Linked DNA regions of Homo sapiens. The protein of the gene in region 2 interacts with the protein of the main gene of each other region in a pairwise test. Each region holds a gene or a part of one and is shown on either strand. Other genes may lie near its edges.

What was found.
Region 1: the proteins of TPX2 (region 2) and HMMR interact in binary tests that used the Homo sapiens proteins (3 or more experiments, as listed by UniProt).

What each region holds. Positions count from the first base shown.
Region 1 is NC_000005.10:163,470,441-163,477,743, reverse strand, and holds part of HMMR (hyaluronan mediated motility receptor), read right to left. Parts: intron 6,560-7,303; coding exon 6,473-6,559; intron 6,382-6,472; coding exon 6,281-6,381; intron 4,566-6,280; coding exon 4,491-4,565; intron 4,366-4,490; coding exon 4,187-4,365; intron 3,688-4,186; coding exon 3,539-3,687; intron 2,287-3,538; coding exon 2,072-2,286; intron 1-2,071. UniProt on the Homo sapiens protein: Receptor for hyaluronic acid (HA). Involved in cell motility. When hyaluronan binds to HMMR, the phosphorylation of a number of proteins, including PTK2/FAK1 occurs.
Region 2 is NC_000020.11:31,798,145-31,802,458, forward strand, and holds the end of TPX2 (targeting protein for Xklp2), read left to right. Parts: intron 1-220; coding exon 221-408; intron 409-2,825; coding exon 2,826-2,936; 3' UTR 2,937-3,656; downstream 3,657-4,314. UniProt on the Homo sapiens protein: Spindle assembly factor required for normal assembly of mitotic spindles. Required for normal assembly of microtubules during apoptosis. Required for chromatin and/or kinetochore dependent microtubule nucleation.

The DNA.
Region 1 (7,303 bases), on a different chromosome or scaffold from region 2:
TGAAGTAGAAGATCAAAGAAACTAAGATTGTTTTGCTCAGAATCAACCAGCTAGCTAACAGAATTAGTAATAAAAATCCTTATCTCTTGACCATTGGACCACAGTTTTTTGAGTTGGAATAAAAAATTATCTCAATTTTCTTTCCTCTCTTAAAATGACATTATCTTATTTTCCCAAGATTCCTGTTCCCTGAGATTGGCTGTAGTATAGAACAACACCCCTAATTACAATTTTGTATTGTTCCCCCAAAAGCAGGGATATGAAAAACCTTGCTGTTCATTTGCATCACTAATCATAAGAAAACAGAAAAGATTAATAACAAAAGTATCCACTGAGACAGATACACAGGTGTGAGATATATTACAATAATACAAACTCATATCTAGCCCACAGTCCTTTGACAACAAGTGTTTTAATGATCAGATCCCAAGGATTTAAATATTTGCAATTTGAACTCAAGAATCAAATCAGACTTTTTAATTTAAATAAATGTAGTAGTGTTTGTCACTAACCTGTGTTCCTGAACTATGAAATATGAATATGTAGGCTAAGGAATAGTTTCTCTTAATAAATAAAAAATTAGCAATTACTATGGACAAAACAAAACAAAATGAAATAAATAAGTGTATGGGAGAAGGAAACATAATGTGGCAGAAATTATAAGGAACTAGAGTTCGGGAAAAAAGTGAGATTTCAGTTTTTCTTTTGTTTTTGGGACACAGTCTCCCTCTGTCGCCCAGGCTGGAGTGCAGTGGTGCGATGTCAGCTCACCACAACCTCCGCCTCCTGGGTTCAAGCAATTCTCCTGCCTCAGCCTCCTGAATAGCTGGGATTACAGGCGTGCGCCACGATGCCAGGCTAATTTACTATGTATTTTTAGTAGAGATGGGGTTTCACCATGTTGGCCAGGCTGGTCTCGAACTCCTGACCTTGTGATCTCGCTGCCTTGGCTTCCCAAAGTGGTGGGATTACAGGTGTGAGCCACCGCACCCAGCCAAGATTTCAGTCTTTCTACTGTAAATAAGAGATTTCTTACTTCTGAATGTTTCCCAGTTATAATTATTTTTTCTCATTTGCTTTTTATCAGTTATTGATTGAGGTGGCATCTTGTGCTACGTTGCCCAGGCTAGAGTGCCATGGCTATTAACAGGTATAATCGTTGAGCATTACAGCCTCAAACTCCTGGGCTCTAAAGATCCTCCCATCTCAGCCTCCTGAGTAGCTGGGACTTTAGGCATGTGCCATTGTGCCAGCCTGCTTTGCATTTTGATTGCTATTTCTGAAGTGTTTGTGCTCCCGGAAAAATGTAATTAAAGGTATAACTTACACTATGTAAGTGCATAGACAAAAATGGGAATGCTATTTATTAATGGGAGGGATTCTTTATTTTTTTCCCCCAAGTTCATTATTGTGTTTTGTTTGTTTTTGAGACAGAGTCTCACTCTGTTGCTCAGGCTAGAGTGCAGTGACGTGATCACGGCTAACTGCAGCCTTAATCTCGTGGGCTTAAGTGATTCTCCTCCCACAACTTTCTAAGTAGCTGGGACTACAGGCACACACCACCGTGCCCAGCTAGTTTTTTTTTTAATTTTTAGTAGAGACGAGGTCTCACTATATTGCACAGGCTGGTCTCAAACTCCTGAGCTCAAGCAGTCCTCTCACCTTGGCATCCCAAAGTATGGGAATTGCAGGCATCAGCCACCACATCCAGCCCTGAGTTGATTATTGTTCTAATGCTGATGTTCAATAAATTTCAGAAATTAGCAGAGTAGTAAAGAAGTGTAAAACTTTTGTCATTTGTTTATTTAAACTCTCTTTGGCCTTAAAAAAAGGGGGCAAAACCTTTAACTTTTAACTTAAAAGAGGGGGCTGTCTTACTTGTTTGCATGTACATTTTGTGTTCACATTCTGTGTCTACTACTTAATTGTAAAATAATTAATAATTACTACTTAATTATAAAATAATTCCAACCTAACACGCTCACATGATTGATAAGAGAATACTAAAAAAAGTACTCAAAATAAATACATCTGAAGTCATACATAAACATGAGATCCTATTAATACAAACCCTTTCAGCTTTTCTTCTAGGAGTTTTAATTCTTCAGCTCTAGATTTTGCTTCCTCTTCCAATTGCTTGACCAGCCTTTCAGCTTGTTCCTCCTTTTGCTGTAATTTATCAAGCTCATCCAGTGTTTGCTTTAATTCTTCCTCAAACAGATTCTTCTCTTTAACCATTTCCTCTTGAAAAGAACAGAGCTTCTGATGAAGACTCGAAGATAATTCCTATATCCAAACAGAAAACCACCAAAATAATTTGGAATGGCATTGTGAGGTTGTACTAGGAGACAAAAAAAAGTACAGATAAAGAAGGATGAAACCTAAATTCAACAGATTCAAGGAAACTTAAAACAATATAGAAATAGCATATTTGTTTTCATAGATTATTTCCTATACCTTGTTAACATTGTGGCAAATATCATCTTAGGCTTTTTTCTATGCAACGCACATGCAGAAACTTCTTAATCTAAAATTATATTTTATATATATATATCTGTTTTACAACTGGCTTTGATATTAACATTATTTTTCACATATTATGTAAAAAGTGTGTGGTGATTTCCATATTACATAAAATTATTTTTTAAGCTATACAATATACAAATACATCACCATTGTGAAATAATTCTAACATTACAAATGATGTTAATATTATCTTTGACGACTTCCCCCCCTAATTTTAGTTTTCCCATTGCAGAGATAGCTACTAGTTTGGAATATATATGCCTTCTGGTATTTTTCTTTACACTTATATATACATATACATTTGGGGAGGGATATAAATGATATATACTCTGTTGCTGAAATCTTTCCAGGTCAGTGTATATAGATCTACTCAATTCCTTTAGCTGTTGTAGGTTGTCCAACACTATAATATTTCACATCAGTGCATGTAAGTACCTGTTGGCTTAACTCTCACCAGTATTTTGTGTTATCAAATGTTTTAATTTGTGCCAATTTTGTAAGTGAAAAAAATATTATTTCTACTTCCTTGGTTACTACTAAGGTGGAGTATCTTTCTATATTTACAGGCCAGAACTTCTCCTTCTCTGTTTCCATCCTATGCCCATAATTTTTCAGTGGACTTTCTTTCTTCTCACTGATATGTAAAATGTTCTATAAATAATCTGGATTTTAAAAATTGCTTTGTTTCTTCTGTAATTAGACAGTCTTTTACAAGGTAAGTGTAAATGTTTATATAGCCTAAATAACACAAGAATGAGCCAGAAAATTTTTTAAAAATTCCCTATTTTGCTGTATCTGTTGTCATTTTCCCACATTATTCATAACCCTAGGGTGAACATGTAGTGAAAATACGTAGCTAAATCCTCAGCATATCCATGATTATGTCCTCAGGATAAGACTCTAAAGATAGAATTGGTAGATCAAAGGATATACACAATTTAAAGGTGTTCAGAGACATAGGGAAATGTATGACACAAAATGAACAGTTTAAAAAAATATGGTGGTAAATTACTTTCTCTTGTTGCAGAAGTGAATCAATTTGTAATTCTTTTTGTTGAAGCTTTTCACGTTCCTGTTGTTCAAGAATAAACTTCTGTTTTAAGTTTTGCATCTCTGCATTTAGATTTTCGTTGTGTTCTCTATTCCTGTTGACATGGTCTTCTAGAAAACGCAAAACATCAAGAATACTGGAATTAGATAAGAACATTAAGACTGAGAAACCTGGACTCCCATAATATTCCATTACACTGCTTTTAGCATGGTATTTCCAAAGAAGAAAACAAAACTGTGAACTTTGTATCATTACTCCATGTAATATATACTATGTGCTAAATAATAAAACCCACAAATCTTGTTCTGTGTTATCTACTGATTGTTACACAGCCACCTAGTGGAAAAGTCAAGAATTATATGACTGTATATATTTCAATCAAGACAGGTAATATGCTGTATTGAAATAAACAGAAAACAAACATTATAAGAGTAAAATATTCTAAAATGCAGTACAGGTTTTTGCTGTTGTATAGCTATATAGCTAATTATATTTAAAATGTTAGTATAGCTAATTATATTTAAAAGGTTGTTTTAGCATAGTAGTATTTTTCCTAAATGTTGTATGTAACACTTATCTAAACAAAGTAACTATAAAACACTGTAATACCTTTTTCTTTTTCAAGCAGCTGACATTTCACATTTAGATCTTCTACTTGTTTAGATAATATAACAATATTCTCCTCAAGAGACTGCTTAAGGCTTAAAATTTCATCATTCTTCTCTTTCAAATTTTCTTCTAACTGGGCAATATCTAGCTTGTATTTTTCCACTTGATCTGAAGCACAACTGCATTAAAACAAATTATCTTAAAAAGCACATCTATTTAGGCACAGGGAAAATAACAGAAAAATGATGAAAATGACTGAGTATTAAAAAAATAAGGTTCAATTTAAAGCTACTGCTCATATTACCTAATTTCTTCGATGTATTCCAAGAGTTTTTCTGTTTCAGATTTTTCATCAATCTTTTCTTTCTCTATTGAAACACTAAAACAAAAATTGCATATGTTAATACATTCTAGTTTCGTTATTTAATAATCTTACATAATGCTTATGTACCAGATACTCCTGTATCAGGCAGGCTGACTACAGAGCCCTAACTCTTAACTATTATTTTATGTAATTTCTCAAATTCACAATTTACATCAAAATAGAAGACTAAAATTTTTATTTAAGTGAGAAAGTTTTCTGAATATATACTGACAAAAAAACCTATGATGACAAGAACCATCATTACAGTATCCCAAGTGTTAGAAATAATATTCTTTTTGTGGTCTTCCTGGTTTCCCCACCCATCCAACATACTAAATAGCATTTTGTGTGCCCATAAAGCTTTTGTCCCAGACTACCTGGTCTTCAATTACTTATCTGTTTACCTCCACCAAACTGTCCAATGCAAGAAATGGACAAAAGACTTCAATAGACACCTTGCAAAAGGTGATATGCACATAAAATGGTCAATAAGCACATAAAAATAAGGTCAACATTCATGGTAACAAATTAAAATCACAAAGGAGATACCACTTCCTACCTAGTAGAAAGGCTAAAATCAAACAGACTGACAACATTAAATGTTGGTGAGAATCTGGAACAACTGAAACTATCATACATTGCCAGGGGGTGTATAAAAATGGCAAAAACACTTCTGAGTTTTAAAAAACATTATATATACACTACCCTATTACCCAAGAATTCTACTCCTAGAAATTTCTCTGAGAAATAAAAACGTGTCCATAAAAAAACATAAAACATGTTCACAGCAGTCTTTTTAATGGCAGACACTGGCAACAGCCCAAATAATGATCAAAAGGAGAAGAGTAAAGAGATGGAGGTATATTCATAAGGTGAACCACTACTCAGAAATAAAATAGGAAAAATTACAGTATACAGAACGGTTTGGATGAATCTTGAAAAATTACATCAAACAAAAGAAGCAACACACACACATGCTCTTTCTCTTTTGCATGTCCTAAAAAAAGGCAAAACTGGCCAGGTATAGTGGCCCATGTCTATAACTCCAGCACTCTGAAGGCCAGGGTGGTATCACTTGAGTCCAGGAGTATGAGACCAGCCTGAGTAACAAAGCAATGCCCCATCTCTAAAAAAAAAAATAAATAATAATAATAATAAATAAAAAAAGGCAAAGCTAATTTATGATGATGTAAGTGAGAAAGTAGTTATGGGGATGGGGACATGACATAGGCAGTAGCAGGGGGACAAGAAGGGGTATGAAGGAACTTTCTGAAGGGATGAAAATGTTCTCTATCTTGTTTGGTAGTGGTTACGTAGGTGTATACAATTGCTAAAGTCACCAAACTGAATACTTACTATCCACACATTTTATTATATGTATATTAAAGCTCAAAATCAAAGGCTAGGATTGTGCATAAATCACAATTTCCTATACCAGTGTTTCTCAATTTCAATCTAATGACCACTTTCATAAGATCATGAAATCTTTCCTCATCATTAATAATACAGAAGATGTACAAAAGTAATGCACTCATACAACTTTGTAGCACAACATGTTTGAGAATGATTAGGGCTCATTCTAGTTTAAAAAGAGAAATAGGGCAACTGGAGGGAGGCAATGAGATAAGTACTAACAGAAGGTTGAAGTCTCAGTAAACAATAATTTGTGAAGAGACTCAAATCAAGAATTGCTTCCACTTAACAATTTCTCTTCACATTCACTCACTTACAGTTTTCCCTCCAGTTGGGCTATTTTCCCTTGAGACTCTTCGAGACTCCTTTGGGTGACCTGCAGCTTCATCTCCATGCCTTCTTGCTTAGCCATCATACCCTACACAACAAAGATACCTGTTTTAGGAAATGAGAAAGTTGTACTGATCCCCAGATCCAGACACAGCAAACCTGCCAAGGGCAGCACTCACCCTCATCTTTGTTTCTCTTTTGTTTCTAAGTTTCATCAACTCCAAGCTTAGAATTCTCAAATTCTTCTGGTTACCATTTTCAGAAAACTAAATACAACAAACACGTAAAAAATTCAGAAATATTTTCTGCTAAGACATATTTAAAATACACAAATATTGATTTTTCTACCTATCACTGGGGTTATGTTTTTGACTTTAATATACTTTGGTAGAGAGAACAGTCTTTGACCTACACCATAATTACTGATTGATTTAATTTTTTTTTCTTTTCTTTTTAAGAGATCAAGTCTCGCTCCGCTGTCCAGGCTAGAGTGGAGTGGCATGATCATAGCTCGCTATAATCTCAAACTCCTGGGCTCAATCAATCCTCCTGCCTCATCTTCCTGAGTAGCTGGGATTACCGGTGTGCACCACCACCATGCCTAGCTAATTTTTCAATTTGTTTATAGAGATGGGGTCTTGATATGTTGCCCAGGCTGGTCTCAAACTCCTGGCCTCAAGCAATTCTCCAGCCCTCAGCCTTCCAAAATGCTGGAAATACAGGCATGAGCCACTGTACCAGTCTACTGTTCTTATCCCTCTTTTCCTTAATGTGACTTGCTGGTTTATTTTTATTTTATTTTTGTAAGACAGAGTCTCACTCTGTCACCCAGGCTGGAGTGCCGTGTTGCTCACTGCAACTTCCACCTCCCGAGTTCAAGCTATTCTCATGCCTCAGCCTCCCGAGTTCAAGCTATTCTCATGCCTCAGCCTCCTGAGTAGCTGGAATTACGGGTGTACGCCACCATACCTGACTAATTTTTGTATTTTTAGTAAAGATGGGGTTTCGCC
Region 2 (4,314 bases):
CTTTTTCCCAATTACACCAGACGATTTCCAGGGGCCCTTTGAACTCTTAAAATTCTAAAACTTTTTGTATTTAGTTGGCTCTACCTTTCTCCCAATGGGGCTTGTTTAGAGCACAGTCTTCCTGTTAGTGTGCATGTCTGTGCCACTTGCTCATTCCAGGGGGCGTAGGTTTATGCAAGTCCTGCTTGTGCACCAATATTTTTTCTGTTTCTGTACTTAGAGGGCCTTTCTGGTTCTCTAGTTCAGGAACCTTTTCAGCTGGCTACTGAGAAGAGAGCCAAAGAGCGGCAGGAGCTGGAGAAGAGAATGGCTGAGGTAGAAGCCCAGAAAGCCCAGCAGTTGGAGGAGGCCAGACTACAGGAGGAAGAGCAGAAAAAAGAGGAGCTGGCCAGGCTACGGAGAGAACTGGTAACTGGGAGCATGAGCACTGACGAACACAAACATGCCTCTGTTTTATTTTACCTGTACCTTACCTTGTACCAGACAGGATCTAAGGTAGCCCGCAAGGCTGTACCAAAGACAATGAGTGAAAGGGGGAATTGCACAAACTGAGGGTGGTGATGAAGTTGAGTTGTGAATGAAGCTAACGATGTGTACATTGTGATCTAAGTAGGAGCTGTAATTTTGGCCCTTTTTAGGAACCAACCTGTCAGTTACAAAACTCGCAGTGTTCATGAGACATAAGACAGTTGTTCAAAAAATACATTTATCCCTTTGATAGTGAATTTTTAGACAGAATTTCTTCCGGAAGTTTTCATAAGGAGGACAACATGTGGTATAACCATGATGCCTTTCCTAGGACTGTTTTTTATTTATTTGTTTATTTTATTTATGTAACTTATTATTTCCTCTGGGGTTAAGAAGCACCACTGAGTTTTGTAATTAGACAAGAATACATAGCGAAGGACATGGGAATTAAATGGCAACTGTATTTTTGTTTTAATACTGAGCCCAAACTCCTTGGAGTTACAGTGTTCGTCGCTCCAGGTAATCCTCTACTAACATAATTATTTAGATGTTGGTTATCCAAAAAGAAACCTGAACTCCACATTAAGGACCAATCTGCTAGGAGGGCAGCAAGTTGTGTTAACTGTGTTAATGAAGAAGCAGACAGTTTTAGATGGAACTTCGTATGATAAATAAAAAAAGAAAGGGTCATGGGGAGATGTTGGTAAAAGGTTACTTAGTTACAGTTAGATGGGAGGAGTAAATTTCAAGAGATCTATCATATAACAAGGTGACTGTAGTTAATGATATATTGTATTCTTGAAAACTGTAAAGAAAGTGGATGTTATGTGCTCACACTACAATAAGTGGATGTTATGTGCTCACACTACAATGTTAATTAGCATCTTGCTAATTAACAAATGCATTATCTCACATAGTAACCATTCCATAATGTATGTCTACTTTAAAACATCAGCGGTACACAATAAAAATATACAGTGTTATCTGTCAATTAAAAAGAAAGAAGGCCAGGAATGGTGGCTCACACCTGTAATCCCAGCACTATGGGAGGCCCAGGTGGGTGGATCACTTGAGGTCAGGAGTTGGAGACCAGCCTGGCCAAAATGGCGAAACTCTGTCTCTACTAAAAATACAAAAATTAGCCGGGCATGGTGGCACGCACCTGTAATCCCAGCTACTCGGGAGGCTGAGGCAGGAGAATTGCTTGAACCTGGGAGGCCCAGGTTGCAGTGAGCCGATTGTGCCACTGCAGTCCAGCCTGGGGGTGACAGAGCGAGACTGTCTCAAAAAAAAAAAAAAAAAAAAAAAAGAAGTGTAAGTTGTTGAGGTTTTGTCTAAAAGTGCTATACTACAGCTGGATGTGGCAGCTCACACCTGTAATCCTCACACTTTGGGAGGCCAAGGTGGGAGGATTGCGTGAGCCCAGGAGTTCAAGAAAAGCGTGGGCAACATAGCAAAGTCCCATCTCTATTTTAAATAAATAAATAAAATGCTAGACTAGCAGTTGAAACAGCTATTGGCAGCTATTGGCATAGGTGATTATGCCCATAGGAAGGTTCCACGGACACACTATTTAGGAGACCAGCCTCTTGGTAAAATCTAGACTACCATTTGCTGAGTGAATGAGAAAATAGTATAATCCCCACTCTATATACACTCATACAATCAGCCTTTTTTCCCGGCCTCAACTTTGATTTTTCTTTAGCATTTGGTACCTGCCTCTTGTGTTTGTCCCCATTATAGAACTGCTTCTTGCAGCAATTCTCAACATAACTGATGGCAACATTGTAAAGCACAATTCAGTCAATGCTGGTTAACTCTCTACTAATCTGGCTTGATTTAGGATTGATTTTAGACTACCCTAAAGGATGGATGGGACCATGCCTTCTTTAGCCACCCTTCCTGGTATGGTTGTTGTGTTTTGTTTTTGCTTTTTCCCCAGGATTCAGGCTTTTGGTGAATATTTATAGTCAGTAAACTTAAGACTGTACTCTGGGAAATTCTTAGCTTGTAACTTCTCTGCTATACTTGAGTACAGCCCTATTATACCCTAGTAAATCACACAGGACATAGGTTTGGCATTCTTTAGTGAAAGCTGAGGGACTTGAGGAGACTGTGGCCTAAAGGAAAGCTGGGGGACCCAATAGAGACCTGAATAGAAACCCTTTTGGGCTCCAAAGCACATACACTTTTCCATCATACCGTGTTGCCCCCCAGGCCCCACTCCCCACACCTGAAACTAGTGACTGGGACCTGTAAAACTCTACAAACATTTTCTCAAAAAGAAAAAAATAAAAGCAATTATAAGCGTAGTTCTCTGACATCCCTCTCACTGGTAACTTTTCCTTACTTTGCAGGTGCATAAGGCAAATCCAATACGCAAGTACCAGGGTCTGGAGATAAAGTCAAGTGACCAGCCTCTGACTGTGCCTGTATCTCCCAAATTCTCCACTCGATTCCACTGCTAAACTCAGCTGTGAGCTGCGGATACCGCCCGGCAATGGGACCTGCTCTTAACCTCAAACCTAGGACCGTCTTGCTTTGTCATTGGGCATGGAGAGAACCCATTTCTCCAGACTTTTACCTACCCGTGCCTGAGAAAGCATACTTGACAACTGTGGACTCCAGTTTTGTTGAGAATTGTTTTCTTACATTACTAAGGCTAATAATGAGATGTAACTCATGAATGTCTCGATTAGACTCCATGTAGTTACTTCCTTTAAACCATCAGCCGGCCTTTTATATGGGTCTTCACTCTGACTAGAATTTAGTCTCTGTGTCAGCACAGTGTAATCTCTATTGCTATTGCCCCTTACGACTCTCACCCTCTCCCCACTTTTTTTAAAAATTTTAACCAGAAAATAAAGATAGTTAAATCCTAAGATAGAGATTAAGTCATGGTTTAAATGAGGAACAATCAGTAAATCAGATTCTGTCCTCTTCTCTGCATACCGTGAATTTATAGTTAAGGATCCCTTTGCTGTGAGGGTAGAAAACCTCACCAACTGCACCAGTGAGGAAGAAGACTGCGTGGATTCATGGGGAGCCTCACAGCAGCCACGCAGCAGGCTCTGGGTGGGGCTGCCGTTAAGGCACGTTCTTTCCTTACTGGTGCTGATAACAACAGGGAACCGTGCAGTGTGCATTTTAAGACCTGGCCTGGAATAAATACGTTTTGTCTTTCCCTCCCTGATTGTGTTATTTGATGTTTTTAAATCTGTTAAGCCCCTTTGGAGGTCACATCTTATTGGGAAATGGGTAGTTTGAGAGGTGGGTCCAGGAACTTTTTTTTTTTGAGATGGAGTCTCGCTCTGTCGCCCAGGCTGGAGTGCAGTGGTGCGATCTCTTCTCACTGTAAGCTCTGCCTCCTGGGTTCACGCCATTCTCCTGCCTCAGCCTCCCGAGTAGCTGGGATTACAGGCGCCCGCCATCATTCCCGGCTAATTATTTTTTTTGTATTTTAAGTAGAGACAGGGTTTCACCGTGTTAGCCAGGATGGTCTCGATCTCCTGACCTTGTGATCCACCCGCCTCGGCCTCCCAAAGTGCTGGGATTACAGGCGTGAGCCACCATGCCCGGCCCAGGACAGTACTTTGTAATTTTTTTCTGTCTTATGTCAGAATATCTCCATATTCTGTTAACTCTCTCTCAGTAACCACTTAATCATGTATGTTATGCCTTCACACAGACTGTACCTTCTTCCCTAAAGACTCAGCTCAAGTTAAATTTTTTTTTTGAGATGGAGTCTCGCTCTGTCACCTAGGCTGGAGAGCAGTGGCACAATCTCTGCTCACTGCAGCCTCCCGCCTCCTGGGTTCAAACGATTCTGCCTCAGCCTCCCAAGTA